Linked DNA regions of Homo sapiens: all the other regions are linked to region 3. Evidence: fine-mapped expression QTL. A gene starts in region 3. Each other region holds a variant in brackets. All regions are shown on one strand. Distances are between the middles of the regions. Region 1 has its middle 81 kb from the start of CTD-2154B17.1. Region 2 has its middle 7.4 kb from the start of CTD-2154B17.1. Region 3 holds the start of DAP (death associated protein).

Region 1 (10,255 bases), 110 kb after region 3:
TCATTGGAACATTTATTCTCTTTGATTCAATATGAAAAAATGATAATTTAGTGCTAACATGATACTCCAAATAACTGGGTACCAACCTGTTAGTTTTATGGAATTCTTCATGAGAGTAACGGTTGTTTGTTTTTGTTTTTTTTTGAGACAGTCTCGCTCTGTTGCCCAGGCGGAGTGCAGTGGCACGATCTCGGCTCACTGCAACCTCCACCACCCAGGTTCAAGTGATTCTTGTGCCGCAGCCTCCTGAGTAGCTGGGATTACAGGCGTGCATCACCATGCCTGGCTGATTTTTGCATTCTTAGTAGAGATTGGGTTTCACCCTGTTGGCCAGGCTGGTCTTGAACTCCTGGCCTCAAGGGATCCCCTACGTTGGCCTCCCAAAGTGCCTGGAATACAGGCCTGAGCCACTACGCCCAGCCATAACTTTTTTTTTTTTTTTTTTTTTTAACCCATAGGTTTTGCTGGTCTCAGGCATACTTATATGTCTTAGTCTGTTCAGGATGCTATAACAAAATATCATAGATGGGGTTGCTTTTAAGCAACAGAACTTTACTTCTTACAGTTTTAGAGGCTGAGAAAGTCCAAGATCAAAGCACTGGCAGGTTCAATGTCTGGCTAGGGCCTGTTTCCTGGTTTGTAGACGGTACCTTCTTTCTGCCTCCCACGTGTTCCACATGGCGGAAGGACTGAGGGATCGCTATCAATCCTCTTTCATAAGGGCATTAATCCCATTCATGAGGGCTCCCAATCACCTCCCAAAGTCCCCACCTTTTAATACCATTACCTTGGGGGTGAAGATTTCAGCATATTAATTTTGGGGGACACAAACATTTGGACCATAGCATTACATCCACCTTTTCTAAATGCATTAAAACTGGTAAGGGATATTAGCATGTCAGGACTCTTTCTTTCCAAAGCCATGTTGTTGTTTTCTTCCACTTTTCGAGGTTGTTGCAAACTGAATTGCTAGTGATTCTTCTCCCGAGCCCATCTCAGCAAAGAAAATAAATTTATCCATAAAACAACAACCCAGGCCACTGGGTCGGCCTCGTAGCAACCACCACGGGGGAAAGGAAGAACCCAGGGCTTCCTAAGGTAGTTCTCGGCATAACCACCAGGGGGCACTGCTAAAGTGCTGTCTCCTGGTCCTGGGCCTCCTAAGTTGGGGATGATGTGGTCTGCTGTGCAATGAGCATCTCGGTCACACCTTGAGTGCAATTAGATTAAAATGTGTCAATTATTGGCTGTGTTCCAGGTGTTTTTCTGTGTTATCTCATTTAATTCCATTATTTGCCTGTGTGGGAGGTATTTCGAATTTCACTTTACAGGTTGGCAACTAAAGTTTTTGCTCATGAGCTATCTCACATCCTAGGTGCTTGTAAGAGGTGAAACCAGTTTTTTGTTTTTGTTTTTGTTTTTGAGACGGAGTTTCGCTCTTTTACCCAGGTTGGAGTGAAGTGGCGTGATCTCGGCTCACTGCGATCTCCACCCCTCGGGGTCAAGTGATTCTCCTGCCTCGGCCTCCCAAGTAGCTGGGATTACAGGTGCCTGCTACCACGCCCAGCTATTTTTTTTTTTTTTTTTTTTTTGAGACGGACTCTTGCTCTGTCACCCAGGCTGGAGTGCAGTGGCGCAATCTTGGCTCACTGCAAGCTCCGCCTCCTGGGTTCACACTACTCTGCCTAAGCCTCCCGAGCAGCTGGGATTACAGGCGCCCGCCACCATGCTAGTTTTTTTTGTATTTTTAGTAGAAACAGGGTTTCACCGTGTTAACCAGGATGGTCTCGATCTCCTGACCTCGTGATCCACCCGCCTCGGCCTCCCAAAGTGCTGGGATTACAGGCGTGAGCCACCGTGCCTGGCCTAATTTTTGTATTTTTAGTAGAGACAGGATTTCGCCATGTTGGCCAGGCTGGTCTTGAACTCCTGACCTCAAGTGATCCACCAGCCTTGACCTCTCAAACTGTTAGGATTACAGGCATGAGCCACTGTGCCCAACTGAAACAAGTTTTTAAAGTCTCTAATTGTCCATCTACAAAGCTCTCAGTCTTAAGAACAAAATCTACAGGAAATTAGGGAAGGAGAGAAGCAGCATCTTGCTCTTTCTAGGCAAGAAGTTCCAGCTGTAAGACTGGATGCTGGGGACGGCTTCATTTCTTTCACTTGAGAAACTGAGGATTTCCACAGTGCAAACCTTGCTTAATGTGTATATCAGTCAGTCAGGAGAGGCTCAGCTGCTGTAACAGATACTCCCCAGAAACTAGGTGGCTTGAAGTAACAAAGGCTCATTCCTCACTCAGACTTCTTGACCACAGTGGCTTTCTAGGGAGTTTCTGCTCACCCTAGGTGTGCAGGTTCCTGGCCAATACAATGATGCTGGTCTGGGAATTTGCCAGTTGCTGTGCATGAGAGAAAAAGAGAAAAATTTAGGAGGGTCTTGAACTGGCAGCCACATGCTCCTGTCCAGAGGTGACGCTCATCACTTCTGTTTGCAATGTGTTGATCAGAACTAGTCACATGGCCCCACTTATGTCCTCGAGGGAGCCAGGAATTCTATCACATTCCCAGGAGCACTAAGGACTACTGATGACCACCACAGAGCCTCTATCAGGGCTGAATAATTACAATTTGGATTTTTTTTTTTTTTAGATGGAGTTTCACTCTTGTTGCCCAGGCTGGAGTGCAATGGTGCCATCTCGGCTCACTGCAACCTCCAACGCCCGGGTTCAAGCGATTCTCCTGCCTTGGCCTCCTGAGTAGCTGGGATTACAGGCACCCACCATCATACCCAGCTAATTTTTTGTGTTTTTAGTAGAGACGGGGTTTCACCATGTAGCCAGGCTGGTCTCCAACTCCTGACCTCAGGTGATCCACCTGCCTCAGCCTCCCAAAGTGGGAGGCCTGATTACAGGCACGAGCCACCGTGCCCAGCCACAATTTGGATATTTTATTAATCATGAGTTCTTTTTTTAACATTCATTTTTATTTTTAAAAACATTGCATTAAGACATTCTTTATTTTGATTTCTGAGTTTCTGGCTCTCCCGTACATTTTGCATCTAAGACCCGTGCTTGCTGCGAACAGAGGGAGGATAAAAAATAACAATTTTGACTGAAATTTTGTTTTCATGAGAGAGCCCTAGAGAAAAGCAGTACTTACAGAGAGGCAAGAATATAGTTGACATCTACATAAATATTGACAGAAAAAGAAAAGGATGAGAAACACACTGTAACAGAAAAGAGAAAACAAAAAGGAGGTCAATTTGAGATTGAGATTGCTGAGGTACATGCTGCTCGGGCTCTTTATTTAGTCAGCACATGGTATAGGAAAACTTTTGTGTTCAATTTCCCCAGTGACCTTCCAAGTACATTATGAAGACAATTAAAACCCGTATCCCAGAACCACAAAGTTTTCAGCGATTGGGCTAATGTTAATCAGTGTGAATTGAACGAAAACAGCTTGTTCAAGTAAAATCGATTGAAATCTTGACGAGCAAAAATGGAAATTTTGGTTGCAAGTGTTTACTTTCTTTTTGTAGGAACACTGTTGTATAAGATTTTTAAAAGTACAAATTACTGGAAGCCCACAGATGCTTCTGTAAGATGCCAGAGAAATTAATTTTGGTAAAGATCTAGGATGTTTTCAATTTATCGAACTGTACATATATAGCAATTTAACTTATCTTGGTACTTGGTATGATTTTTCTTTTAACCAATGTCTTGAATTTTGTTCTTGTGTGGATTTCATTTGAGTGTGAATCTATAAAATTGACCTAGATTCCTTCTCGGCAGTAGAATTGATCTCCTTTTTTTTCCCGATTTGCCTTGTAAAATGCATCTGTGAACTTGCCTGATAAAGTTGAAAAGAGAACTTCTTCAAAGATCAAAATTATTTGCTAAATGTGTTTCTATACTTGGAACATCAGTGAAATATACACCTAAATATGGGGTGAAAGTAAGAGAAACTTCTTGACTACAACATTGCTTTAATCTTGGGGACTTTACGTTCCTTAGAAAATCCCAACATCCCGAGGGCAACCTCACAATGGATATGATCACTACATAAGTATCCAGGAAAATAAAAACAGCTTGAGTTTTTGAGGAACTCTCTTTTTAAAACTCTTGAAGTACCGTGTATTGTGCTCTGAAGGGTGATGCTGAGTACTTGGCATTAGCTTTTCTTAGGGATTTGTTCACATGGTCCCCTTCAGAAGAATGACTTGGCAAACAAACTTTGCTGTCACTGGGAGTCTTTTAACACCACCTCAGTAAACCGCAGCCAGGGGGCTCGCTTTCCCCATTGCCTCACTGGGGAAAATTAAGGTCTTAGAGAGAAGCATTAATATCTGGGAGAGGTTGGTTAATGGGTACAAAAATACAATTAGAAAGAGTAAGTTGTAGTATTTAATCGTAGAGAAATTGTAGTTGAAATAATCTATTGTATATTTCAAAAGAGCTAGAAGAGAATTGTAATGTCCCCAACACAAAGAAAAGATAAATGTTTGAAGTGATGAATATCTCAATTACCCTGACTTGATCATTACACACTGTGTACAGGTATCAATATATCACATGTACTCCCCAAATAGGTACAACTATCATAAAGTAGTTATATAATACAACTACAATAAAGATAATACAATAATGTCTGTTCCCTGGGATCAAGCTTACTAGGAGAAGAGGGCCTGGAGGCAGGGAACCTAAGGACTTCCCAGAACTAAATCAAGTGGAAATGCTTCAGCTATGACAGGAAATATCCTCTTCATTTACATAGGGCGTGCACCAAGTAAATGACTTTGTAACTTTACTTCATCCTCTTCATTTACATAGGGCGTACACCAAGTAACCAATGGAAACCTCTAGAGAGTATTTAAACCCCAGAAAATTCTGTAACTGGGCTCTTGAGCCCCTATACTCAGGCCCGCTCCCACACCGTGGAGTGTACTTTCAACACATCTCTCTGTTTGTTGCTTCATTCTTTCCTTGCTTTGTGTGTTTTGTCCAATTCTTGGGAACCTGGACACCCTCCACCAGTAACACTGTGGCCCTTGGGGAACGAGTCATTAAAATTTTAACGACAAGTGCAGCTCTTCGAAGGATATTCCAGTCAAAGGAAGAGCATCAAAGAAGAGGTTTTTTGCTTGGGTTACTGGCAATCAAAGAATGTGTCACTAACACCTGGACGGGGTTTTGAAGTACTAGCAGGAGTTCCTCAGGTTCACAGAGGAGTGCTATGAGGGAGGACAGCCAAGGTATGTGGAGCAGGTGCGGAGAGGGGGGGGCACATGGAGCAGAGGGCCTTGGTGCCTCTCCAGGGCCCTTTTCCGGATCTGTGAACCAACCTTAACTCTCTTGCAGGAGATGGAAGGGCCTGGATGTTTAGGTTACCCTCGCCTCCCACAAGAGTTGCCCATGGTTCAAAAGCCAATTGTCTCCGTCGCTAAGGGTGGGACAGAATCCAAGGCACAACCTATACTCTAGGGGCCCCTTGGGTTGAAGCTGAGTCCGTGACCACCCCTGAAAATGCACTGTTGCTGGCTTCTCCTCCTCCCTACTTGGCTTTGCCCACCTCTTTCTGTCCCTGCGGGAGAACATCCTCAGGAAATCCCCGGGGCCTGGGTCCTTGCTCAGGGCCTCCTGGGAGAACCCAGCCTCAGAGGATGCGTTTCAGG[A/G]CAGGAACTCCCAGAAGGACCATGGGAGTTGTGTGTTTGGAAATTGTAAATATAAGATCAAACGAATGGATACGGCCGGTGAAAATACTTTGTAAACTACAAGTGCTTTACCCTATTAGCAGTAATTGTTTTCCATTTACAACTGTCTTTCCCAACAGGCCTTGGGAATACTTTATTGGGTCAGTTCATCCTCCTCCTACCGCTGTTGCCAGCGCCCTTTATAACATTCTGTGTGATGAGTGCACCTGCTACCTGGGGAGGTGGGTGGGGCGAATGAAAGTCGATTACTTAAATCTGGATGACAAATGCCCTGCCTTTACTCCCCTGGATTCAAAGCTTTTATTTGGCCCAATGGAGCTTTCCTGGGGCTTCATCTCTTAGCACATTGCTTACTATCGCAGAGCTATTTGTTTTATAAACTCAACTCCTTAAACCCAATGAAAAACAATGGCTTCAAAGCAGCTTTTTCCATTCTGTGAACACAGGAAAAAAAATAGCAGTAAATCAGAAACTTCTCATCTGAGACAGTTATTTTATCTTTTTGGCACTGGCCCTTAGAGAACAGGAGGTAGAATCCACCCGAGCCCCTCGTCTCTCTGTGGAGTCTTCCACAACGTGCATAACATCCCAGCCGCTGTGGAACGTGGCCGAGGCCAGCCCCAGCTTGATTTAATGCTCTCCGTAGCTGAGTTTCTTTGCCCCAGGCTCAATAAGCTGTAAAGAATAGATCCTCTGACAAATTGACAGCTTTTGCTTCAGAGATGTAAAGCCAATGGGAAAACCTACAACAGGGCAATTCTCTTTTTATTCAATTCATTTGGAGAAATAATCATCAGAATAATGATCTATTTTAGGGAAAGGTGGATGGAAACTTAGGCTATTTGTAGAATTTTCTCCTAGGTTTAAAATAACATTATCCTAAACTCTTCCTTTCCTTCCTTCCTCCCTCCCCTCCTTCCTTCCTCTCTACCTTGAACTTGACTACAGCCTTATACTTTGTGTGAGGTTCAGTGTGAATTCAGAAGAGAACTTATAAAACATCTATAAAATTAAAAGAAATCAATTGGCACTGCAGCCCTATAAACTCTTCTTCCATAAAAGCCATTCTGTGCCACTTCTCATCTCCTGGGAGGCAAGAGTGGTAAAGGCTCACACTTCCAGGGGAGGGCAAGTTCAATGGCAAGCTATCTGACTTTGGGCGACTATAATCCTATGAATCTCAGTTTGCTGAGGTGCAAAAAGGTGATAATTATGCCTCCTGTGCTGGGTAATAGAAAGCAAACAGATAATGCCCTTTCATGGAAACTAGCACATACTAAGAGTTAATCAAAGATAGGCATTATTATCATTCTTGCTACACAAACTTGGATAAACAAAGCAAGGGCTGGGAACAGGAAAGGAAAGAGAAAGCTTAAGGAAAAATTAGATTTTTTTTTTAAAAATGCAGCATTGGAAGAGCTATTTAAATGGTTTCTTTAAGTCTGTTGTGGAGAGAAAACTGCATATATGGGTGTGGGTGGGTGCAGAGGGTGGGGGTTGACTGACAAGAGCATCAGGGTGTTGGGGACCCCTTCAGATACATGAGAATTCCCCTTGGCAATGTCCAAAGTGGACCGGAAGGTGGGAGTCAACACTAGCAGCATTTTTTTTTTTTTTTTTTTGGGAGACAGCATCTCACTCTGTCACCCAGGCTGGAGTACAGTGGCGTCATCTTGGCTCACTGCAACCTCGGCCTCCCAGGTTCAAGCAATTCTCCTGCCTCAGCCTCCCAAGTAGCTGGGATTACAGGCACCCGCCACCAAGCCCAGCTAATTCTTGTATTTTTTTTTTTTTTTTAGTAGAGACGGAGTTACACTGTATTGGCCAGCCTGGACTCAAACTCCTGACCCTGTTATCTGCATGCTTTGGCCTCCCAAAGTGCTGGGATTATAGGTGTGAGCCACTGTGCCTGGCAAGCAGCAACTATTTTAATCCCAAACACAGCTTCCTTCGCCATCCAGTTCCTTCTTCTCTTCTCCCACCTCCTCCTTCTCCTCCTCCTCTCTCTTTTGTATAACCCTCTATATTTCATCAGAAATACAGTCAAGAAGGGGTCATTGGAGCATGATAAGCAAACAATCTTCACAGTCATCACAGGGCCAGGATAGAGTTTTGTCATTTTTTCTTTTTTCCATGATTTTATATTCCACCTTGTCTGCAGTCAGAAATTGGCATTTGAAAATGCAGTTTATATGGTCCTGTTTAGAAAGTTAGGGTGAGGCTTGCTTTTTTGAGCTGGCAAGAACAATAAAGACCTAGGAAGATGACAGGATAGGGGAAGAGGAGCTTTGTTAGATGGGCGACGTGCTGACGGTTTTGGAAGCTGCGTTGAAATTGAATTTCTTGCACAAACGTCGTCGACACATGCACTTTCCCATCCTCATGGCAGATGTCATAAGAGAATTATTGGTGTAGTGAATTCTTGCCCAATTTCTCCCGCTTTAATCCCATTTTACACATACTTCTTGGCTTCCCTGTTATAAAAGCCAGAGCGTTTTTGAAAGCAAATGCCCTAAAAATTCACACATTCTCGTTCTACAGGGAGACATCGCCAAAAGCTAAAATATCCAGGAAAGGGAGAGATGATGCATAAACTAATCACCAAGAAAATGATAAAAATTCATCACTAGAAAGTCTGGCTTTTTAAGTATCCTTTTCTAGATTCAGTTTTTTAAGAACCAGGTCAAAACCTGATACTTTGGAAGGAAGACCTTACAAATTACATTGGAAAATCCTGGAGTGTTTATGTATTACCCTCATTGCACCTGAGAAAAATCTTTTGAATAAATATATGTAGGTACTGCATCTCTGAATAATTTTTTGTTAGGGCAAAAGATCCATTAAGGTAAATATCATCAATCAGACAATTATAAGTATTCAAAATGATTGATTCTATCGAATTAAGAGTGATTTCAGGGATATGAAACTCCTTAATTCACACATTAAAAAATTTTACCACTTATTTTTCATTAATGTACAGTAAAAATGATAATAAATCAAGCAGATCTCAGTTTGAACAGAGGTGATTGTAGTTGATACTTAAAAAATAGCCTCATTAAGACTCACGTTTATTAATGATCTACCCTGTCACACACACTGGCCAAAGTTTGATCTGGAGTCCTAGCATGTATGTATTGATTTATGAACCTGCTTTGGATTATTACCTGAGCAGAGAAATTGTATTCAGCCACAGAATTCAGGCTTTGAATTTTGGAACTTTCTATCCAGGGTCCAGTAAATGTCAGCGTGGAAGGTAATGGGCCAGGCAAATAAACCCCCGTCATGATCATGCGGGTGGGATGATCTCGCTGTAGCCTGACTTGGGTGAGTTAGTTTACATGAAGCTGCTGCCTGAATTCGCTATGTGGCCAGGCTTTGCCAACATATTCATGTGTAGGAAGCGTGGACGTTTCCTCTCCAGTGTTTGAAAATCTTGTGTGTGAGTTTCCTATGAATGCCGTAACAAATTGCCACAAAGCTGGTGGCTTAAAATAACACAAAGGTATTCTCTCACAGCTCTGGAGGCCAGAAGTCTGAAATCACTGGGCTGAAATCAAGGCGTTGGTGGAGCCACACACCCCGCTGGAAGCTCCAGGGAAGATTCATTTCTTTGCTTTTTCCAGCTTGTCGTGGCCGCCTTTGTTCCTTGGTTTGTAGCTCCTTCCTCCATCCACAAAGTGCATCACCTCAACCTCTGCCTCTGTCTCTGCAGTCACTTTTCCTTAGAAGGTCACACTCACAGTTCCAGGGATAGCAACTTGGCTATCTTTGGGGGCCTTTATTCAGCCGACCCCATCGTAGAATACAAACTATGAAATGTGACCACGTCCTTATTAAAAACCAGTCGGGTGTGGCGTCTTATGCCTCTAATCCCAACACTTTGGGAGGCCGAGGCAGGCAGATCACCTGAGGTCAGGAGTTCGAGACCAGCCTGGCCAACATGATGAAACACCATTGCTACTGAAAACACAAAAATTAGCTGGGCGTGGTGGTGGGCACCTGTAATCCCAGCTAGTCAGGAGGTGGAGGCACAAGAATTGCTTGAACCCAGGAGGTGGAGGTTGCAGTGAGCCAAGATCATGCCACTGCACTCCAGCCTGGGCAACAGAGCGAGACTGTGTCTAAAAAAAAAAACAAACAAGTAATTCTAGGGCAGTTTACATTTTATTTAAATTTCTTAAACTAAGAAAATAATATGCACATGGTAAAACAAAACAAAAAAACCAAGCAGTACAAATGATGGACAATGAAAAGTGAGCGGGCCTTTCACTCCTGACGGTGTTCTGTGGATAGGAACTGCCCTGGCTTTACAACTGAAGGCCCCACATCGCAGGAGGTCCCTCAGTCCCAGACAAACCAGACAGCAGCTTACCCTGTTCCAGTTCCATACCCTACCCCAGAGCTTGCCATAGTTACTTGTTTTTTGTGTATCCTTCTGAAAGTTTCCACATATATAACACAAATTTTTAACTCAATTGGAAAATACCTTTTTAATTATCTTGGCATTTTTTTCCTTATCGGCGCATCTAGTTTTATCTCTCT
Region 2 (10,255 bases), 34 kb after region 3:
GAAATGTGAGCACCAGGATGCTGAAAACATGAGCACCAGGATGCTGAAAACATTGAAAAGAGTCCAGGCAAAAGCAGGGCAGTTACTAGAGAACAGAAGTCTCAACTTGTGAAGAATTCAGTGTGAAACACATGCGCTTTGGCCACCAGGAAATTATACTTGTTTGCCCAAGTTTTTTCCAAGAGGAAGATGCTTCAGGGATATGTAACACGCTCTTGTGGAAAGAATGCTGGTTTATAGGCCTCTGCACAGGGACTCCCCTAAACCTCTACCCCAAGTCTGGATGAAGAAAACAGTGAGAGGTGCACCAGATGAGGAGCCAAAGCTTTTCACAAGAACCAAATAATGTTTTACCAGTTAGGGTGCTTTTGGCTGTAAGTAATAGACCAGATAACAAAGAAGCTAAGGTCATTTATTATTTCCTTCACAAGAAGTTCAGAGATAGGCCAGTACCAGGCTTGGTTAACTCAGCAGTGCAACAAAATCCTCTAAAACTCAATTCCTCCCCCCTTCTCTCTCTGCGATCCTCGTGGGCTTGATTTATCCTTTTAGGGTTGGCTTCCCTCATGATGCAGAGATGGCTATGACAATTCCAGGCATGCCATGTAGATGACAACATCTCTGTCCCTTTTTAAGAGTAAGGGATAATTTCCCAGAGGTTCCCCAGCAGATTCTTACTTCCACTGCCCTTGACCATGACTGTGATCTCTTTCCAAGCTGTATTAGTCCGGGTTCTCCTGAGAAACAGAACTAATAGGAGATAGATATATTTATGTACATACACTCAAGTGTGTATGTGTTTGTGTGTGTGTGTATATATATAAAATAAAGAATTGGCTTACATGATTATGGAGGCTGAAATGTCCCCAGATCTGCAGTGCAAAGGCCTGAGATTCAGGAGAGCTAATGATGTTAAGTTCTAGCATGAGTCCAAAGCAGAAGAGAGACGTCCCAGCCCAAAGTCAGGCAGGCAGAGAGAGCAAATTCTCTCTTGCTCAGCCTTTTGTTCTAATCAGGCCTTCAACAGATTGGATGAGGCCCATCCACATTGGGGAGGGCAATCTGCTTCACTCAGTCTACCAATTCCCATGCTAATCTCACCTGGAAACACCATCACAGACTCACCCAGAAATAAAGTTTACCCAAATATCCAGATGCCTCATGGCACAGTCAAGTTGACACAACAGTAACCATCACACAATCTTAAACTAGCCACCAACAAGGGGAGTAAAATGACTATGAATGGCCGAGACCAATCCCAATTCACTCTAGGGCTAGAGGGGGAGCTCAGCCCCCAGAAGCTCAAGGCCTTCCAGTCCCTGGACACAGCTGGGGTTCTGTTGGCAAGTAATAGGGGGAAGAGCTGTGGGGCAGTGACCAAGAATGGCTGCACCCTCTGCTCCATGTAACTCACCGAGGAGGTCCCCAAAATGTAATGCATGACAGGATGTTAGCTAACACTTGCTGGGCACGTACTCTGCACTAGGTGTGGTACTAAGCACTTGGTAGGTGTCATCTCATTCAATCAGTTTAACAACCTGAAGCTCCTTGTGTTGGGCTTTGTTGGGAGGTGAGATGGACCTTAATAACTGAATCTTCCTGGAAGAGCCCAGGGTTAATCCTCTTAATATCAAATTGCTCTCCATAAATAACTGCTTTGCTGTGGTTCTTGTGAATTCCTTCTTCTTTTCTTTCTAGTAGTTGACTTCACTTTAGACAACTGCAATTTCTACTCTGGCATGATTTCTCAGAGGCGGTCCTCAACAAACATGCCTGGGGTCAGGGAGAGAGTCCAGTGATATGAAAAACTAGCCCAGAATGGAAAACTCCTTGAAGTTCTGCAATTATATATTATTTTTTATTTTGTTTTTGATTTTTTGAATTGAATTTGATTTGTTGAATAAATTAATTCAAGCAATACAAAAGTACTGTTGAGAGCAAGTGTGCCTCCCACCTTAGTCCCTGCCCAAATCAGCTCTCCCATGGATCCATTCATCCTTCCCTTCCTAGTTATTGATAAACTATTGTTACGCAAAGGTCTGTGCCAGGTTCAAGCTGACTCGTGGAGTTCCAATGGAGTTATCTTTAGTTCTTCCCTCCCACACAGGAAGCACCCATCAGGTGCCAAGTCCTAAACATCCATCTTGACAAAATCTCTGAAGTCCTCATTCCCTGTTTGTTTATTGTTTCTCCTTGGACTCATTCTGCCAGCCTCCAGTGGCCTCCATGACAACATTGCCTCCTTCTCTGTTGTCTCCGTCTTCTTTAAGTGCATTTTTTATAAAGATACACTACGTTATAGGTGGAATACTGTGTCGCTCCAAATGCACACGTTGATGTTCTAACCCAGTAACTCAGAATGTCACTGTAGTTGCAGGTAGGGTCTTTAAAGAGGCAATTAAATTTAAGTGAGGTCTTTGAGGTGAGCCCTAATCCAATCTGACCGGTGTCCTTAATAGTAAGAGGTGATTAGGACACAGACACACACAGGGATAGACCATGTGAAGACACAGGGAGAAGACGGCTATCTACAAGCTGAGGACTGAGGCCTCAGAAGAAACAAGACCTAGTGACGCTTTGATATTAGACTTCCAGCCTCCAGAACTGTGAGAACATAAATTTGTGTTTGAGCCACACGGTGTGTGGCACTTTGTTATGGAAGGCCTCGCGGGCAAACACAGACTACGTACAATCCAGCCACTCACTTGCTGAAAGCTCTGTAGTGGCTTCTGGCTGTTTAACAGTGAGGCAGCACTGGCCCACCTCTCAGGGCCCTTCTGATCTGGCGTGGACCTGCCTCTACTGTCCCGCTTGCTTACCATCCATGCTCTGGGCTTCAGCTCACACTGGGCTGATTCCCATCCAGGGAACACGGCTGTGCTTCCTTGCCTTTCGCCTTTGCACAGGCTGTTCCCTCTGCAAAAAACATATTTGCATTTCCCATCACGCCCCTCCCATTTCTACCTGTTGAAATCACGTCCATCACTCAAACCCAGCCACAGTGCCATCTCCTTTAGAAAGGCATATGCTTTCCTAAAGCCACAATCTAGTTGGGTCCCTCCTTTTCACCTCCCTCATTGTTACAGGTAGTCAGACAGCATGAGCAGGGCAGAAGAGGGCTCTCCCATCCACTAGGAAGGTTGGGTAATGGTTCAGCAACGATCACAATGCCTCTCTAAAAATGGTAAATTGGCAGCCAGTGCCAGGGAGAGGCCATTTCCTGCTGGCCCACACCTGTTGCACTAAAGTGTTCACTGAATGCAGACACCAGGGAGAAGCAACTTCCTGAGCATATACATAAAGAGACAAAATGGCAGAGTATGACCTTCCAAGGGCACCCCACAGGAAAGGGAAGAAAGCCTCAGATGGGCATGTGCACAGCTTCCTAAACACACTGTGGGTGCTCACTTCCCAAGGGTAAGGGGAGCACTGTGTATGTGGGCAGCCCAGCCTAACGGAAGAATCGTGGAAAAGGGGCAGCCTATAAGGCCCTAGCATCAAGGTTAAACACCGCACTTGTTCTTCAAGTCACCCGCTTGGGTTTCTTCCAAGCCTACTTTCCTTTCTTTCCTGTTCTAAAGTCTTTTAAAATAAACTTACACTCCTGCTCCAAAACTTCCTTGGTCTCTTTTTCTACCTTATGCCTCTCAGTCAAATTCTTTCTTCTTTTTTTTTTTTTTTTTAGATGGAGTCTTGCTCTGTCTTCAGGCTGGGGTGCAGTGACGTGATCTCGGCTCACTGCAACCTCTGCCTCCCGGGTTCAAGCAATTCTCCTGCCTCAGCCTCCTGAGTACCTGGGACTATAGGCATGTGCCACCACGTCCAGCTAATTTTTGTATTTTTAGTAGAGATGGGGTTTCACCACGTTGGTGAGAATGGTCTTGGTCTCCTGACCTCATGATCCACCTGCTTGGGCCTCCCAAAGTGCTGGGATTACAGGTGTGAGCGACCGTGCCCGGCTAAATTCTTTCTTCTGTGGAGGCAAGAATTGAGGTTGCTGCAGGCCCATATGGATTCGCCAGTAACTCAGACATCTTCCACCAGGGTAACACCATCATCATTTGTAAAAGTCTCATGCCGGGATCAGACCTGCCCCGTATTCTATTCAGGTGTGCACTCAGTTGCCTTCCTATTTGACTTGCTCACCTTTCAGCGTGTCATCTAGGAGGACTAGACAAGTAGCACATTTTCACAAACACGAATGGAATGAACATGACAGGCCAGATTGGAAAATAGGATCAAAAATAAGTCAAAAAATGAAAATTATGTCTATGGAAAAAAAGAAATAGGAAACACGACTCAAATTGTGTCAACCCTAGGATGACCTGCAGGAAGTTGAAACCCTGGGTGGGAGAAGTACTGAATAGAAGAGAGAATGCTGCTCCCCTGACACTGCAGCTATATCGGAAAATACATTCTAAGTCTACTTAAGATAGAATTCCGGTTGAATATTCTGAAATGTGTTCTTACATGGAAGACATTTGACCCCTGGAGACAACTCAACAGAAGCTTTGCCTTGGAAAGCTGGTTGGATGGAGAGGTTTTGTGAGGTCTTTTTACTCTGGAATCTGAGATGCCTGGTGGAACTTGAGCAGCACTGTTCAGCAGGGGGCAGGCCACCAAGAGCACACATATACCCTTAAAAACCATCTGCTCTGCAAACATGCAGAAATCATTAATACATTGCAAGCGTGGTTTTGCCCAGACCTGCTGCAAAATGATCACAGGCAAAGTGGTTTGCGTACTCTCCCCCTCACTGATGGCTCTTTGGGCCGTCAGTTGAACAAGGAACCCACACGGAGCTAAAATGTACAAACGACAAATAAAATGTTGCCTCTCTCTCCAGACTCTCACAAAATCAGGAAAAACAAAAAAAACCTTTCTTTCCATTTCTGCAAGAAAGAAATGAGAGCTAAAACTGTTAGCCATGTGAAATCTAGTGGGGAAACCTGTTTTTTTTTTCCTATGAGTCTTAAAGCAGCAATAATTTGTTTTCCTTTCTTTTCCTTTCTTTTTTCTCCCCTCTGCCACATTAGAGAGGCTTGCTGACAAAGACTTGAGTAGGTTCTATAAGGAGCCCCAGGCATCCCCAGATGTGGTGCACATTGAGATGGATGGAGAAGTTGTGTATGGCGGAGGAAACTAGGAGTGCCGCAGGATAGAAATCCACTGGGAGTAAGACGGGTTGGTGTCCCTCTGGAATCCGTGTTGCTGCCACTGCTCGGTAGAGAAGGGTGGGTGGAGTCATGTCCCTGGAACCTGCCTGACAGTGTTGCCAGTTCTCCTGCTTCACTTCTGGGGCTGCCCCCGTGTCCCTGATGTCAAAGCCATGAAGTTACTTCTGGGAGGGGAGAAATCAAGCTGGAGACCCTGAGACAGGGGTGAAATCAGAACCTGCTGCGCTGGTGGAATTTGGCAGATGCCTCCATGCTGTGAAGGGGCCATGGGCACCGAAAGGTCTCCCCACCCCTGCACCCTCTCACTCTGATGCCAAGGGCCTTTAGTTCCCCAGAAGCAGAACTGGAGCTGGGGAAGACTACATGAGGGATTCATGAAGCCAGAATTCTTAGGAGGAGGAGGGATCAGGAAGACACACGGTGGAAGGCACGGGGCTAGGTGGGGATGTGGCCTCTGCTGGAGACCAACTTCTGCCGGATCCCATGGCAGCTCCATCGGGTCCCTTTTGAGGTGAGGACATTGGCCTTTTGTATCTCTATGTTTTGTCTTTGACCACTGGCCATGGTGATGGTGTTGGGTGACTGACAAGGTAGCTCTGTGCTGGGCTGCACTTCCTTCCGCTG[A/G]AAGTCATTAGGATGCCTCGCGGCTCCTTGTGAGGTTGGACATGGCGGATGAGCACTGAAGGTGGCAGGATGCTTCAGTACAGAGACAGATGGTAGATGTTCTGGCTTTTCAGGCCACCTGATATGGTTAGGCTTTGTGCCCCCACTCAAATCTCATCTGGAATTGTAATCCCCATAATGCCCATGTGTTCAGAGAGAGACCAGGTGGAGGTAATTGAATCATGAGAGTGGTTCCCCCATGCTGTTCTCATGATGGTGAGTTCTCACGAGAGTTGATGGTTTTATAAGGGGCTCTTCCCTGCTTAACTAGGCATTCTCCTTCCTGCCACCTCGTGAAGAAGGTGCCTTGCATCCCTGTTGCCTTCCACCATGATTGTAAGTTTCCTGAGGCCTCCCTAGCCATGCAGAACTGTGAGTCAATTAAACCTCTTCTCTTTATTAATTACCTAGTCTCGGGCAGTTCTTATAGCAGTGTGAGAATGGACCAATACACCACCTGTGGTCTCTGTTGTATATTCTTTTTTGTTTTATTTCACCACTCTTTATAGAAACTCCATCATTGGCCTGAGAGCCACACAGAAACAATCCCTGATTGACTAAATCCATTAATTCATAAGGGATTGCAAAATGGTGATGGCCTAACTCTTCACGCTTCATTCACTAGCTGAATTATTTCTATAAAGAAAAAGATTCTGCCAGTCACCTATTTAATACCCTGAGGGACAGTTCATTTAGGAAAGACACGATAAATGCTTGGATTTTTCTGTTTACTTACTATCTTAGCCCATTCCAGGCTGCTATAACAATACACATGAGACTGGGTGATTGATAAAGAACACACACTCATTTCTCACCATTTTGGAGGCTGGAAGTCCAGGATCAAGGCACCTAGAGTTTTGTTGTTTGATGAGGGCCTGTTCTCTGCTTCCAAGATAGAGCCTTGTTGCCAGAGGTGATCAATACTGTATTCTCATGTGGCAGGAGAGATGGAGGGGCCAAAGGCCTGGCTAGTTCCCCAGAGCCCTTTCATAAGGGTTCTAATCCCATTCATGAAGGCAGAGCCCTCACAATCTAACCACCTCCCAAAGGCCAACCTCTTAATACTGTTATCACACTGGGTCTTAGGTTCCCATGTATGCATTTTTGGGGATACATACATTCAGATCATAGCATGTACTGATTTTAATAATAATGAGTTTGTTTCTAGACATTCTCCAGAGATAATCAAGATTTTTTTTTTTTCCTCTTAGTATAATTGTGAACTTAGGGATGTAAGCATATTGACAGGTTCAGGATCAAATTTGCCATCTTTGGGCAGTTTGGCCTCTGAATATTTTTCAACAGTTTTATTGAGATATATAATTCACATACAGTACAAACACCCATTTAAAGGGCACAATTCAATGGTTTTTAGTATATTCACAGAGTTGCACAACCATCACCACAATTAATTTTAGAACATTTTTGTCATCCCCGAAAGAAACCCTGTACCCACCAGCAGTCATTCTCCATTTCCCTCCACCTACCTCTTCCATCCCTGTACCCCACCCCCAGACCTAGGCAACCACTAATCCACTTTCTAGACGAGACTGTTCTGGACAATTCATATACACTGAATGATATAATAGGCGGTCTTTTGTGACTGGCTGCTTTCATTTAGTAAAATGTTTTCAAGGGTCCTCTACATTGTAGCATGTATCAATATTTCATTTCTTCTAATTGCCAATTAATATTCCATTCTGTGGATGTACCACTTTGTATTTATCCATCCATTGGTTGATGGACATTTGGTTGTTTCCTCTTGGCTTCTGAGTCTTTTTGATAGCTCCCTAGCAGTCTTTGGCAGCTTCCTTCCTTTCTAGCATAATACGAAGTTCCAGACTCTTCTTATATATGTCTACCGCAGGCTTGGGAAAACTCACTCTCCAAGGAGCACATATTCGTTTTAATGGGAAATGCAATGTCAAGATAAAACCTGGGTGCTAGGGATGTTTATTGTTACTGGGCTGGTCATTGATTCTAGGACTTGCAACAGACAGAGACAAAACATTTTTTTGGTTGTTTACTTGTTTGTTTATTTGCTGTTTAAGATAAACTTTACCTGGTGAATGTCCTGAAGCTTCCAGTTCAAAGTTAGGACCACAGAGTTTTTACTTAGCTTCATCAATATTACAATTGTATTTTTTTCTATGCTAAAATGTCAGATTCTCAGTGACACCAAAGTAATGACTCATTTGCATTATCCCATAAGACACGCAGACACAAGTTTCATGTCGCAATATCAAAACTTGTGGGAGCAATGTATTTACTGAAAACAGTTTAAAATTTGTTCAAAGTTATTTTTGCCTTACAGATTTGTCACTGGAGATGTACAGTTGGAAATGTATTTTAACGGCATTTGGAATAGTTCCTCTTTGTGGTTATGCTATCAACTGGTTGCCACTTAAGTTCATTTAGTTCACTTTATTTTTGATTTTTAGAGATTGATTTTATAGAAATTAATTTTGTTTTCTAATTATGTTCTAAAGTTAAAACTACAAGGTAAGATTTATTCAAAGAAGTCCGGCTTCTATTCCTGTCCCTTCTATTTTACTCCCTTTTGTTTCGATAAGGCAACCACTAAAGACAATTATCTTCTTTTACTTTAAATTTTAAGCAAATTCTATATATATGTTCAATCCCCCTTCTTAGACTACTGTATTTACTATTCTCCATCTTGCTTTTCTCATTGGACCATAAATCTTGGAGATCACTTCATAATGGAAATCTTTCTTAGTCTTTTTTAACAGCTGCATAGTACCCTAATACTTTCTATATGCACCCCAGTTAATTCACCTTGTACCTGATTGACAGACATTTGGATTGTTCCAAGTTTTATGCAGTCTCACAAATAGTGCTGCAATGAATCGCCTATACATTTTCAGATTTTTGCCAGAATATCATTGGCTAAGAGCATAGAAGTGGGATAGCCAAGCTAAAGGAGCATACTTTGTGTAACTTGGGTTTTTCTAAGGCATGATTTCCGTTAGGGGTTGCAAAACGGTGATAGGTATTTAAATTTTATCATTCTTTATTTATTAGCTAGAACAGCTCTATAAAAAGAAAGCTCCCCTTACCACCTCTTTGACTACACTGAGGGACAGTCCATTTAGGAAAGGCAGGACAAATGCTTGATTCTTTTTACTTACTGATTTTCACAAAAATGAATTGGTTCTCAGGCAACTTCCAGAGGTAATCAATGAAGATTTGTTTGCCCACATGTATCATTATGAACATATAAATTCAATCATATTTGATGTGTTTAAATCCAATGTCATCTTAGTATAATATTAATTTCCTTTATTATAAGTGAGGTTGGGCACCATTTCATGTGCCTAAGAGTCAGTCACATTAATTCTTTCATAAACTATCTGCTCATATTTCTAGACTACTGTTGGTCAAGTTGTGAGCCTTTTTTTCTCTTTTTAGAATCTCTTTTATATATTGTTATTGACTTTTGATACATGTGTTTTTTCTTAGTTTATCATTTCCCTTTTCTACTTTGCTTATGCTGTTAATTTTTCATAAAAAAGGTTTTTTGGTGATCAAATTAATCAAATGTTATATTTAATGCTTCAGATTTCAAGTCATAATTAGGAAAGTTTTCTTCATTCGCAGGATAAAGAGGAATTCAGCCACATTTCCTTCTAGTACCTTATGGTTTGGTTTCGTTTTTACATTTAAATACATACCATTTGAAATTTATCCTATCATATAGCATGAGTAAAGATTCCATTTTATTTTCTTCCATATGGCTATCCAGTTATCCTAACACCACCTGTGAAAGAGTCTATCTTTTCCCTACTGACTTCAGATTTTGACTTTATTGTATACTACATTTTAATAATCACATAAGTCTGTTTCTAGAGTTTATATTCTGAATCATGTGTACCTATTTAAGCATTAATATAAAGCTTTTGAAATGATGGCAGCTTTGTAGGAAGTTTTAATATCTGAGAGGTCTTTCCACCACCCTCCCTGCCATTCCTCTCCTTTCTTAAGCTGCTATGCTTACTCGTATGTTAATACAAATACATTCTATATAATCAGCCTGTCTGGCCTAGGTAAAAAACTTGGGAATTTTTCAACTTTGTATTACATTACATTTCATTTATATGTTAGCTTAGTGAGTTCTGATTTTTTTTTTTTTTTATGCTGAGTCTTCCTATACAAGGACATGGAGTGTCTTTCCATTTGTTCAAGTCTACTTTTGTGCCTCTCTCGTGAGTGTTTTATGGTTTTCTTCATGCAGGTTTTGGGCACTTCTTTGCTACCACAAATGTGGTGGTCTCTTCTATCTTCTTACTGGTTTTTGTTTACAATATATGATGAGTATTTATTTTTCTTTGTTAATTCTAAAAATTGCTCCCTTCCTAACACTGCTCTCAGTGTTATAGTATCTTTTCCTTTGATTC
Region 3 (10,255 bases):
TGGGGAAAAGTGACTTTGGTGGGCAGCATCATGTCATCACGTCCCCCCACTCTGGAACCTGTGAGTGTGCTGGGCTACACGGCCAGGGGAAATGAGGGTTGTAGATGGAATTAAGGTTGCTCATCAGCTGACTGTAAGCTGAGGAAGAAGAAGGGAAACTGCTATTCTGTGCTTAGAATCATAGACTGAAGGTGAGGAGATTATTCTGGATTACCCAGGTGGGCCCATGTAATCTCAAGGGTCTCTGAATGTGAAAGAGGGAGGCGGAAGAGTCAGGGCTCTGAGTGTGTGATGTGAGGATGTGACTGGTCATTGCTGCCTTTGAAGAAGCTTTCCTTGGCTTGTGGAGGAAGGCGCCACGAGCCAAGGAAAGTGGGCAGCCTCTAGAAGCTGGAAAAGGCAAGAAAATGGGATTCTCCCCGATCCTCCAGAAGGAACCAGTTGCCCTGTGGATACTTTGATTTTAGCCCAGTGAGACCCATCTTGGACTTCTCACCTCTAGAACTGTAACATAATAAAACTGTGTTGTTTAGAACCACTAAGTTTATTGTGATTTGGTACAGCAGCCATAGGAAACTGATGTGATGATGCATACCACTTGTGGGCCACACCATACGGACCCCAGCACGGCGACCTACACTTGTCCCCTCAGCAGCAGCCACACAATGAAAAGCTAGTGTTATACAGCAAGGGGTGTCTGGGCCTCTGAATTGCTCTTTGTTAAGAAGACCCCACCCAGGAGAGAAATAAACCTGGATTAGTTTGGCCACTGAGAATTTAGGTTGTTTGTTACAACAGGAAGTACCATTCTCTATACCTAATATAGTACTTTATACAAAAGTGAACATTCTCTATAGAAACAAAAAAAACTTCTGAAGCTGGGAAGGGAAAAGCAGTCACAAAACCAAGTAAGAATGCACAGGGCACTGGCCGAAATGAAAAGGACACTCACAAAGACGTTAGAAGTCACAGATAACCAAAAATGGCTAGGGAAGGCTGGGTGCGGTGGCTCATGCCTGGAGTCCCAACACTTTGGGAGGCCAAGGTGGGCAGGTCGCTTGAGCCCAGGAGTTTGAGACCTGACTGGACAACATAGTAAAACCTTGTGTCTACACAAAATACACAAATTAGCTGGTTGTGGTGGTGCACACCTGTAGTCCCAGCTACTCAGCACACTGAGGCGAGAAGATCTCTTGAGCCCAGGAGGCCAAGGTTGCAGTGAGCCAAGATCACGCCACTGCACTCAAGCCTGAGAGAGACCCTGTCTAGACAAGAACAACAAAAAAAGGCTAGGGAAGAGGTGAAATGCCATGGGCCACCTTGACAGAAGGCTTCTGAAAAAAGATAGTAACTAAAGGGTCTTGTTTTCCTTGGCATGTTGGGAACAAGGGCAGACCTCTTACCTGGACCATTCAATTTCTGGTCCTGACTGGTTGACACTGGGACTATGCTTAGCAAATCTGTGACCACAGGGTTAATAGAAGACAAATTAGTCTTCTGTTTCTAGCAATGGATAATCTGAAAGTCTTTCTGCAGGGAGATAATTCAGGGAGAATTACACTAGACTTTTGAAAGGCATCCTTAACTCATGTCTGACGTATCAATTAGTGTAAGAGAGAACTAAGTTACTCTGAAGTTACTAAAAAAAGTAACATGGCTTGAAATAAATATAATCGTGCTTATATTTCCATTTAATTCACTTTGAGAGGGGATGTAGAGTCTGCTTTTCAAAGAAAACCACATGTAAGATTAGTAACATTCAAAGCTATCATGTAGCAGATTTATGAGAACTCTACTGACACATGGTTTTGGCTCCACTGGGAAATGGAGGGGAACAGGGCCAGCAAAATGTATTTAACAAAGAGATTTTACACATCTCACTGCCACAGACTCACAAAGACTGGCAGAAATGAGTAATAGCGAGGCTTATAATTAGGTCCTCTTTTCTGCTGTGGAATGCTATGACTGCTGTTAGATGAAACAGAAAGAATCTCGCTAATTCTAACTCTGCTAATCTGCATTTGCAATAACTCATCAAACAAGCACTCACCCCATTTCTCTGCAAATATTTTGTAGTCAAGAGCAGTGGTAAGGTCTCAAATCATTAAGGCTGGATTACTTCTACAGAGGACTGCAGACGACAGCACATTTGCCAGGACATGATGCAGTGCCATCCATCACTTGTAAATAACAATACCTGTATTTGCACAGCACCTTTCTCTAACACTCTTCAGAAGCCTTTACAAACTGCCTCATTCGTCTCCCACCTTGGGAGGAGGCACCTGGCCAGTGATGGAGTCGTCTGTCGGGCTGCTGAAGTTCCAAAAGGCAACAGCCTTTCCGGCCGCTCCCACTAGGTCACTAGCTCAGGGGAGTTGGCAACAGACACTCCAAACAATTGGGTCAGGTTTTTTTTTTTTAGACGAAATATTCGCTCTTCTTGCCCAGGCTGGAGTCCAGTGGTGTGATCCTGGCTCACCACAACCTCTGCCTCCCAGGTTCAAGCGATTTTCCTGCCTCAGCCTACAGAGTAGCTGAGATTACAGGCACCCACCAGCACACCCGACTAATTTTGTATTTTTGGTAGAGACGGGGTTTCACCATGTTGGCCAGGCTAGTCTTGAACTCCTGAGCTCAGGTGCTCTCCCCACCTGGGTCTCCCAAAGTGCTGGGATTATAGGCGTGAGCCACGACACCCGGCTCTGGGTCAGGTTTTTAAACGGCACTGTCCTCGGTATCTCAATGTTAAGATGACTGGTGATTTCATGAGTTAAACGTGCCAAGCGCTTAGAAGTGTGTCAGCACATTGTGACACTCAACAAACTTCATTAGTGTTTCCACCAGTCTGCTGCCTGAACCGGCCAAGAGGACCACCTGCATCCCTGCGCACAGTACAGAGAGCTCAGAGTTGAGGAAGGTGTGGGCCCGGTTTGCTATGGGGGCAGTGAGGGGTGAGAAGAGGCCCTGGGGAAACTCTGGAGTGCTTATTGAGTATTTTGTGCCACCCCGGGAATAAAGAGATCAAGAAGACCCAGCCCTGGAAGCAAGAAGACAGGCAGAGAGGCGAAGGTTAGTGCACGAAGGAAAACAAGGGGATTGCGGGGAATGTACAGGAGATATGGGCCAGACAGCAACAAAGAGAAGACACAAAAGAACATTAAGATAGTCACTGTAAGAGAATTTTATTATTTCTGATTGAGCATTGAGGCACAAGTCTGTTATCCAATTTAAGCACTTAATGAAAGCATTCTCAACATTTTTAAGGCAGTGATTTTGATTTATGAACTGTGCTCTTGGCTATCCTTGATGATTATCCTTTAGTGTAGTGGGCCGCCTTTTTTTTTTTTTTTTAAAAACTATCTACCCTTCAGAGCTGCCTACTCTCTGGCAATGCCAGACTAAACAAGAACACCAGAGCTTCCTGCCAGAAAAGGTTCACACATGGTCCTCTGTAACATCTAGGAAAGCGCATTTGAGGGGTGCTGTTGGCATCTGAGGGGTGCTGTTGGCATTTGAGGGGTGCTGTTGGCATTTGAGGGGTGCTGTTGGCATTTGAGGGATGCTGCTGGCATTTGAGGGGTGCTGCTATTGGGCCCCTCCTCTAACTATGGTCTTGGAGACAGATGACAGATGGTGACAGCCACCCGCAAGAGCTCACCCCGTAAGTCTAAAGGGGTTGCCCTGAAGTTACTAGAGGAGTTTACCTGGGGGATGAACAGTGCTGGTACCCTGATGCTGAAGCGGGACGTGAGACTCACTGCAGCAAACACAGCCCCACCCTGTGACTTGCCCCGAGGCCCAAACCTCGAATTTCATAAAGGAGAAAAACTGAGCCCCAGTGAAGCGTGAAGTGATGTCTTCAAACTTAGAACCCAAGCTCACTGCTACACTAGCACAAATAAGCTGCCTCTTCCCTCCTCAGGGGTAAATAAACTACTTACTCTGTAATTCACAAAGCCTAGCTGTTTACTCTGCAATTCAAAGAAAACCAGAGTCCAGCAAGGAATTTCTCCCAGGGAGTGAGTATGTACAGTTTATACCTCTGACCTTAAAAATCTCCATATGGGCACTTTGGAAGGCTGAGGTGGGTGGATCACCTGAAGTCAGGAGTTCAAGACCAGCCTGGCCAACATGGCAAAATCCGGTCTCTACTAAAAATACAAAAATCAGCCAGGTGTGGTGGCAGGCACCTGTAAACCCAGCTACTCGGGAGGCTGAGGCAGGAGAATCTCTTGAACCTAGAAGGCGGAGGTTGCAGTGAGCCAAGATCGTGCCACTGCACTCCCAGGTGACAGAGTGAGACTCTGTTTCAAAAAACAAAACAAAAAACTTCTTTATGGGTGTGTCTCTGTATGCAATTTAATTACTGTACTTTGGTTCTGTATCATTCCAACAGATACGCTTTAATGTAACCCATGTCCTGGGGAGTGGAGGGCCAGAGCAGGTGGCTGCTGCAGTTCCTGGAGGCAGCCCTGCCCGGGGTGGAAATCAAGGCGCTCCTCCCCACAGTGGACAGGGACCCGCTGTGGTGGAATGGAAGTCAGTTATCCTTAAAAGAAATCCCATCAAAAAAAAAACTCCCTTTGAAGTACTTTTTTTCTTAAAACCAATGCAACACAAATTCCCCCAAAACCATTTTCCATCACAGTGGAATGATTTTCTAAAACCCCATGCCTCTTAAGTTCTCTGGCATCAGTTAGACATTTTTCTTTCCCAGTGCCAGTTAGTTTTGTTGTAGAGAGCCTCCGTCACCACTGAAAAATATTGCCTACTCTGGACTGCAACATATTTAAAGAACGGCTCCTATTCATTGTGCTGGTGCAGAGAATTCCCGCCCTATAGCGGAGGACAGCAGAGAAGGATAATGGGAATCTTTTTTTTTTTTTTTTTTTTTTTTGAGATGGAGTCTCGCTCGCTTTGTCGCCAAGGCTGGAGTGCTTTGGCTCAATCTTGGCTCACTACAACTTCTGCCTCCCGGGTTCAAGCCATTCTCCTGCCTCGGCCTCCTGAATAGCTGGGATTACAGGCGCCCGCCACCATGCCCAGCTAATTTTTCTACTTTTAGTAGAGATGGGGTTTCACCATGTTATCCAGGCTAGTCTTGAACTCCTGACCTCAAGTGATCCACCCTCCTTGGCCTCCCAAACTGCTGGGGTTACAGGCATGAGCCACCGCGCCTGGCCAGGAATCTTTATTGTCAAGAAAATGGCGCAAATGTGCCACCAAAAGAAGCCATGTTTCTCAAAGACTTCTGTTCCTACAAGACTGAGTTTATGACACTAAGGCGTGCTATTAAGACCTAAAAGAACCTCACGCATCCATACATTGAAGTGACTTGGCTTCTGAGACCCAAGGCCTTTGATCTTCTCACCAGTGTCCCTCCATATGGGCCGACTGCCACTGGAAAGGAGAGTAGAAACGGAAACAGACCCGTCTGGACAGAATCCAAAGTGCAAACAGGAACTGTGCCCAGAGAGAGGAGGAGGTGGCAGAAGCATGAAGGCTGCTTAGATCCCTATGTTCTAAGAAAGACCGCTCTTTCCTGGCTTTAACTTCCTTGGCTCAGAAGTTTAGGATTTGCTCAAAATCAGAAAAAGCAACTTTGGGGGAAAAAAAAAATCTGGATGTGGAAGAAACTGGCGGTGAAAGTCATATTGAGTGATTAATGATAAAAATTATTTCCGCTCCTTGGTTCTTGAGTCGGTATGAAACGCTGGCAGCCTCTAATTAATCATCACCATGATATTAACACCACTGACTTTTCATTGCTTCTGCTACTTTCTTTCTAGACATCTGTATCCTCTAAGTAAATATTATCCGCCAAAACTTTGTTATAAGTTGTGCAACTGGGTTCGCCCAAGGCACCGGAGCCTGCGCGCAATCGCACAGGTACGCGGCCGCCCGCGGTCCTCAGGAAGAAACGCTTCGCCGCCGCCGGCAAGCGGGGCCGAAGCTCCGGCGGGCTCCTCCCGGGCCTGGGCGCCCGACCTCTCCGCGGCCCGCGCCCCTCGGGCGGGCATCAAGGCCCGGAACCCGTCTCAGCGCTCGCCGGGGCCCTCCCCGCGGAGCCCCCGCCCGGCGCCCCCGGGTTCGAGCCCGCCCCCGGCACCCGCGCGTGGAGAGAGAGGAAAAGAGTCAGTACCGGCGGGCGGGTGTCCAGCTTTAGTCTCTAGTTTCCCTTCGGGAGGCGAAGACATGACGCGGCGGGGCTTCCGCGGGGCCGAGGCGGCGGCGCGGTTCTCGGGCCGGGCGGGCGTGCGCGAGTGAGCTCAGGTGTGAGCGCCGGGGAGCGAGCGGGCGGGAGAACGACGCGCGCGCGTGGGGCGCCGGGGCCGCGCGAGCCGGGTGAGTGCCACTGCCGTTAAGGGGGCGCGGCCGCCGCGCGCCGACGTGGCGCAGCCGAGCCCACCGACGGCATGCGCACTGACGTCACCGCGGCCCGCCCGCCCTGCTGGGCCGCGAGCCAAGCATACGGTGCGTGCGCAGCCGGCCGCGCCACGTCGGATGCTGTGGCCGGGGGCGGGGGCGGGGGCGGGGGCGGGGGCGGAGGAGGGAGGGGAGAGAAGGGGTGAAGAAGTGAGAGGGAGAAGGAAGGAGAGGGAGGCGGGGTCCCCGACTGGCTGCGGGGACTGGAGTTGCGGAAAGTTAAGTAGGGCCCAGCTGAGGATGGCTCCTGCAGCGAACGCGCTCAGCCGGGCTCCTGGCTACGCGGCGACGGCTGGGTGACTGCGCCCCACAGTGCGGGCCAGGGCCGGGGCGTCCCGGCAGGGAGGCGACCGTCCCCTGAGGCCCTCAGCCCCTGCCGCGGCAGCGCCTAATGAAGCGCGGAAAGGAGAGCCCAGATGGCAGCGACGGGGGCCGAGAGAGCAGGAATTTGTTAAAAGACGATGCGAGGGGAGAGCCTGCTTTCCGAGTGAGGGCCAGCGCTGGGGAGCAGAGACGGTGGCTTCTGTCCCTGCCCTCCTCGTTATGAACCAAAAATAAAATTCTAAGCCCTGCAGCCAACGGATGGACCCTCCCCTCCGCCTGTGGCCTTCTAAGTTATCTTGAAAAACTAGTTCAGGCCTTGATGGGAAGCGGAAGTCAAACATGGCCTCACAAACATCCGCACGGAGACCCTAAGACTAATAGAGGACTCTGATAAGAAACATTTGCAGTGTATTCCCGGCTTCATCTGCATGATAACACCTTGGTCTCCACAACTCCTTCATGCAACCCGGACATTCCCTTCTACTGAGTCCAGGTCTTTAGATGATAACTCTCAACCAGTTGCCAATCAGAAAACCTTTAAATGTACCTATGACCCGGACGCCTCCACTTCACATTTTACCTCCTAAAGAGCCAACCTACATCTTACGTATTGATTGATGTCTCATGTCTCCCTCAAATGTATAAAACCAAGATGTTTCCTGGCCACCCTGGGCACATGTCATCAGAACCTCCTGAGGTTGTGTCAATGCACGTCCTTAACCTTGGCAAAATAAACTTCCTAAATTGAGACCACTCTCAGAAACTTTTGGTTTTCACCATCATCTTCCTGTTGCCGTGGCTGACCCCTGGCTCTCGTGCCTTGGATCGTGTTCTTCCCGCCTGCCCCAGTGTTTTGCAACTGCTGTTAACTTCCGCAATGCCTTGCTGGATTCGCATTCAGACAGGCCTAATCTCTTTAGCGAAGGAAACACCACCCCTCGCTTGGCTGTACTTTTCCCTTTGACAACAAAACTGTTCAGGGAGGCTGAGCTCCTCATCTCTTGTCACTCCCTCCAGTCCAGTTTGTCTGGTTTTCATCAAGTTCTGCTGCACTGCCCTCAACCATGGGAGGTCCTTTTGTGGAAGTCACTTATAACCTATGTGCTGCCAGATCCAATGGTCATTTTCTACTTTCATTCTATTTGAGCTCTTAGCAGCACTTGATGCAGCTGGCCGTCCCCCTCCTCCTTTGCTCCGGAGGTGCCACATCACTGCCTTACCCTCCAGTTCTCTGGCCACCCTGGCTGCTCACTCTGTCAGCTTGGCAGTTCGCCCTCTTCTAGATTTATAAACATTTGAGTATCGCAAGGCTCAGCATTGGCCTTCTTCTCTATCTAGACTTCCCATAGATAGTCACATGCAGCCTGTGGACGACTATCATGCAGATGCTTACAGGTGCCAAATCTGCAACCTCATTTCTCTATTTCTGCTCCTCCCCTGAACTCCAGACTCACCACCACCACCACCTGCAGACGCTTATGGGTGCCACATCTGCAACTTAATTTCTCTCTTTCTGCCCCTCCACTGAACTCCAAACTCACCACCGCCACCTTGGCTTCTCTATTTGTTGTCTAACTCAGTGCTGCGCAACTCTGTGCATCAGGGCACACATGGAGATGCACATAGCATACATTGGTCTTGCATTCCCCACTCCATACACACATTTCAACACCGGTAATAGGATAATTGTTGGCCAGGCTGCAGTCATGATATGCTTGCCATTGTCTTGCATTCACATCCAAACTTCCAAGTGGGTGCCAGCAGTTTAGAAGAGAATCCTGAAATTAATACTGGGTTACTCTTTAAAGAGATAGCACATCACTCACGTTCTTAAAGGTTTAAGGATACCTAACTGATTAATTTCATGAGTAACTTCCTTTTTATGTATGTGCAAAAGTGCTATATAGTTAAAAACTTATGTCGTATGTCTTAAGCCTAAAGAATTATTTCTTGGAAGTATAAAATGAAAATTTTAAGTTGAAAGAGCACATTGTGGTATCATTTAATTGGTAGTGTTTTTACCCTTAGTGGTACCTAAAACAAAGTTGCATGTTACGAGCCACAGCATCTTAGACTCAATAACAAATGCTATTGGTAAGGAACCCTGGGGGGTGGGGGAGAAAGCCTTCACAGGAAGGAGCAGAGCTCCAGAGGGGCCCTGGTGGCCCCTGGACTGCCCTGAGGTCTGACAGGTTGTGTCTCTTTGCCTGTGACCTGTTCTCCAGGTTTGTACTGATTGGGAAACTCTGGTTGTCTTACAGTAGGTAGCTAGTCGGCCTGAGCAGGGCAGGAGAGGACTCTTCCCCCACAACCCACACCACCAGAAATGTTGTGTGACCATCAGGTGATGGTCAGGAAGTTGTTACACTGTTTCTCTAAAATAATAATTGGTTGCAGTCAGTGCCAGGGAAAGGCAGTCTCCCAGTAGATAGAAAAAACCTGAAAGTGGTGGTCAGCAGCTTCCTGGTAAGATCTCTTTGCCACACATCGAGAGGCAAAATGGCAACGTTTGACTGGTATATGACCTTCTAGGAACATGAGGCTGGTAAGGGAAGATTGCCTCAAGTGAGCATGTGTACACTTCCAATAAACACACTGCCCCTGCTCACTTTCCAAGCGCTGGCAAGTCACTGTGCATGTGGACAGCCTACCCCAAGGGAAGAATCAGGGGATAAGACTGATCCCTGAAGAATCAAGGGATGCAAGACTCCAGAAGTATGCCAATGTATAAAACCCTAAGTCAAAGGTCAAACCGTGCACTTGATCTCTAAAGTTACCTGCTTGGCCATCTTCCAAGTGTACTTTCCTTTTGTTCCAGATCTAAAGCTTTTTAATAAACTTTCACTCCTCCTTTAAAGTTGCCTCAGTCTCTCTTTCTGCTTTATACCCCTCAGTTGAATTCTTCCTTCTGAAGAGGCAAGAATTGAGGTTGCTGCAGACCTGTACAGATTCACTGCCACTAACGTATTATATTTGGGTGCTACGTGATTCAGGTACATTCTGCTCCTGACAGTGTGACAGCCAAGTTAATTTTACATCTTCAAAGAACTCTTGATTTCCCACCTATCGGCAAATAGCTTCTCCTCTAGAATACAATCCAAGCTACTCATTACAGTGTGGAATAATCTGTCTACTCAATAGCATTTCTAATGAAGGAAATACTGTTAAGAAGGTAGTGAACTTCGCAAAAAAAAGACATTTATTTTTCAGCTTCCCTTGTAGCTAGGGGTAGCCAAGTGACACAGTTTTGACCATGGAAATCTGCTGGGGTGTTTTGGGGAAAATTTACATTCTTAATATGGGGACACCCCTTCCTCCTGGTGACATCATTTGTACCACCTTGAATTCAGACAGAAGGCCAAAGGTAGAACAATCATATCGCAACTGTGAGGCAATCAAAGGCATGAAAATCACAAGCTAAAGGTGACAGAGCAGGAAGGTCAAAGGCATGTGGGAATCTGAGGGTCCATGGAGGCGCTTCAGAGCTGTGGACTCCTCGTCCAGA

Evidence for each region. PIP is the estimated chance that this variant, and not a neighbour inherited with it, causes the effect.
Region 1: its variant is fine-mapped to the expression of DAP in whole blood (TOPMed, PIP above 0.99).
Region 2: its variant is fine-mapped to the expression of DAP in whole blood (TOPMed, PIP above 0.99).

What each region holds. Positions count from the first base shown.
Region 1 is chr5:10,862,852-10,873,106 of GRCh38, forward strand. No RefSeq gene overlaps it. Among named protein-coding and RNA genes, the nearest start is that of CTD-2154B17.1, 81 kb to the left of the region's middle. The variant A/G (reference allele first, on the strand shown) is at 5,675.
Region 2 is chr5:10,789,349-10,799,603 of GRCh38, forward strand. No RefSeq gene overlaps it. Among named protein-coding and RNA genes, the nearest start is that of CTD-2154B17.1, 7.4 kb to the left of the region's middle. The variant A/G (reference allele first, on the strand shown) is at 5,802.
Region 3 is chr5:10,754,872-10,765,126 of GRCh38, forward strand. It overlaps DAP (death associated protein), which reads right to left and starts at 6,363. Exons shown (of 4, transcript NM_004394.3): 1 at 6,143-6,363. The coding sequence starts at 6,197. It overlaps DAP-DT (DAP divergent transcript), which reads left to right and starts at 6,165. Exons shown (of 3, transcript NR_187555.1): 1 at 6,165-6,345. RefSeq lists silencers at 1,783-1,872, 5,919-6,348, 6,429-6,898 and enhancers at 2,093-2,172, 6,421-7,266.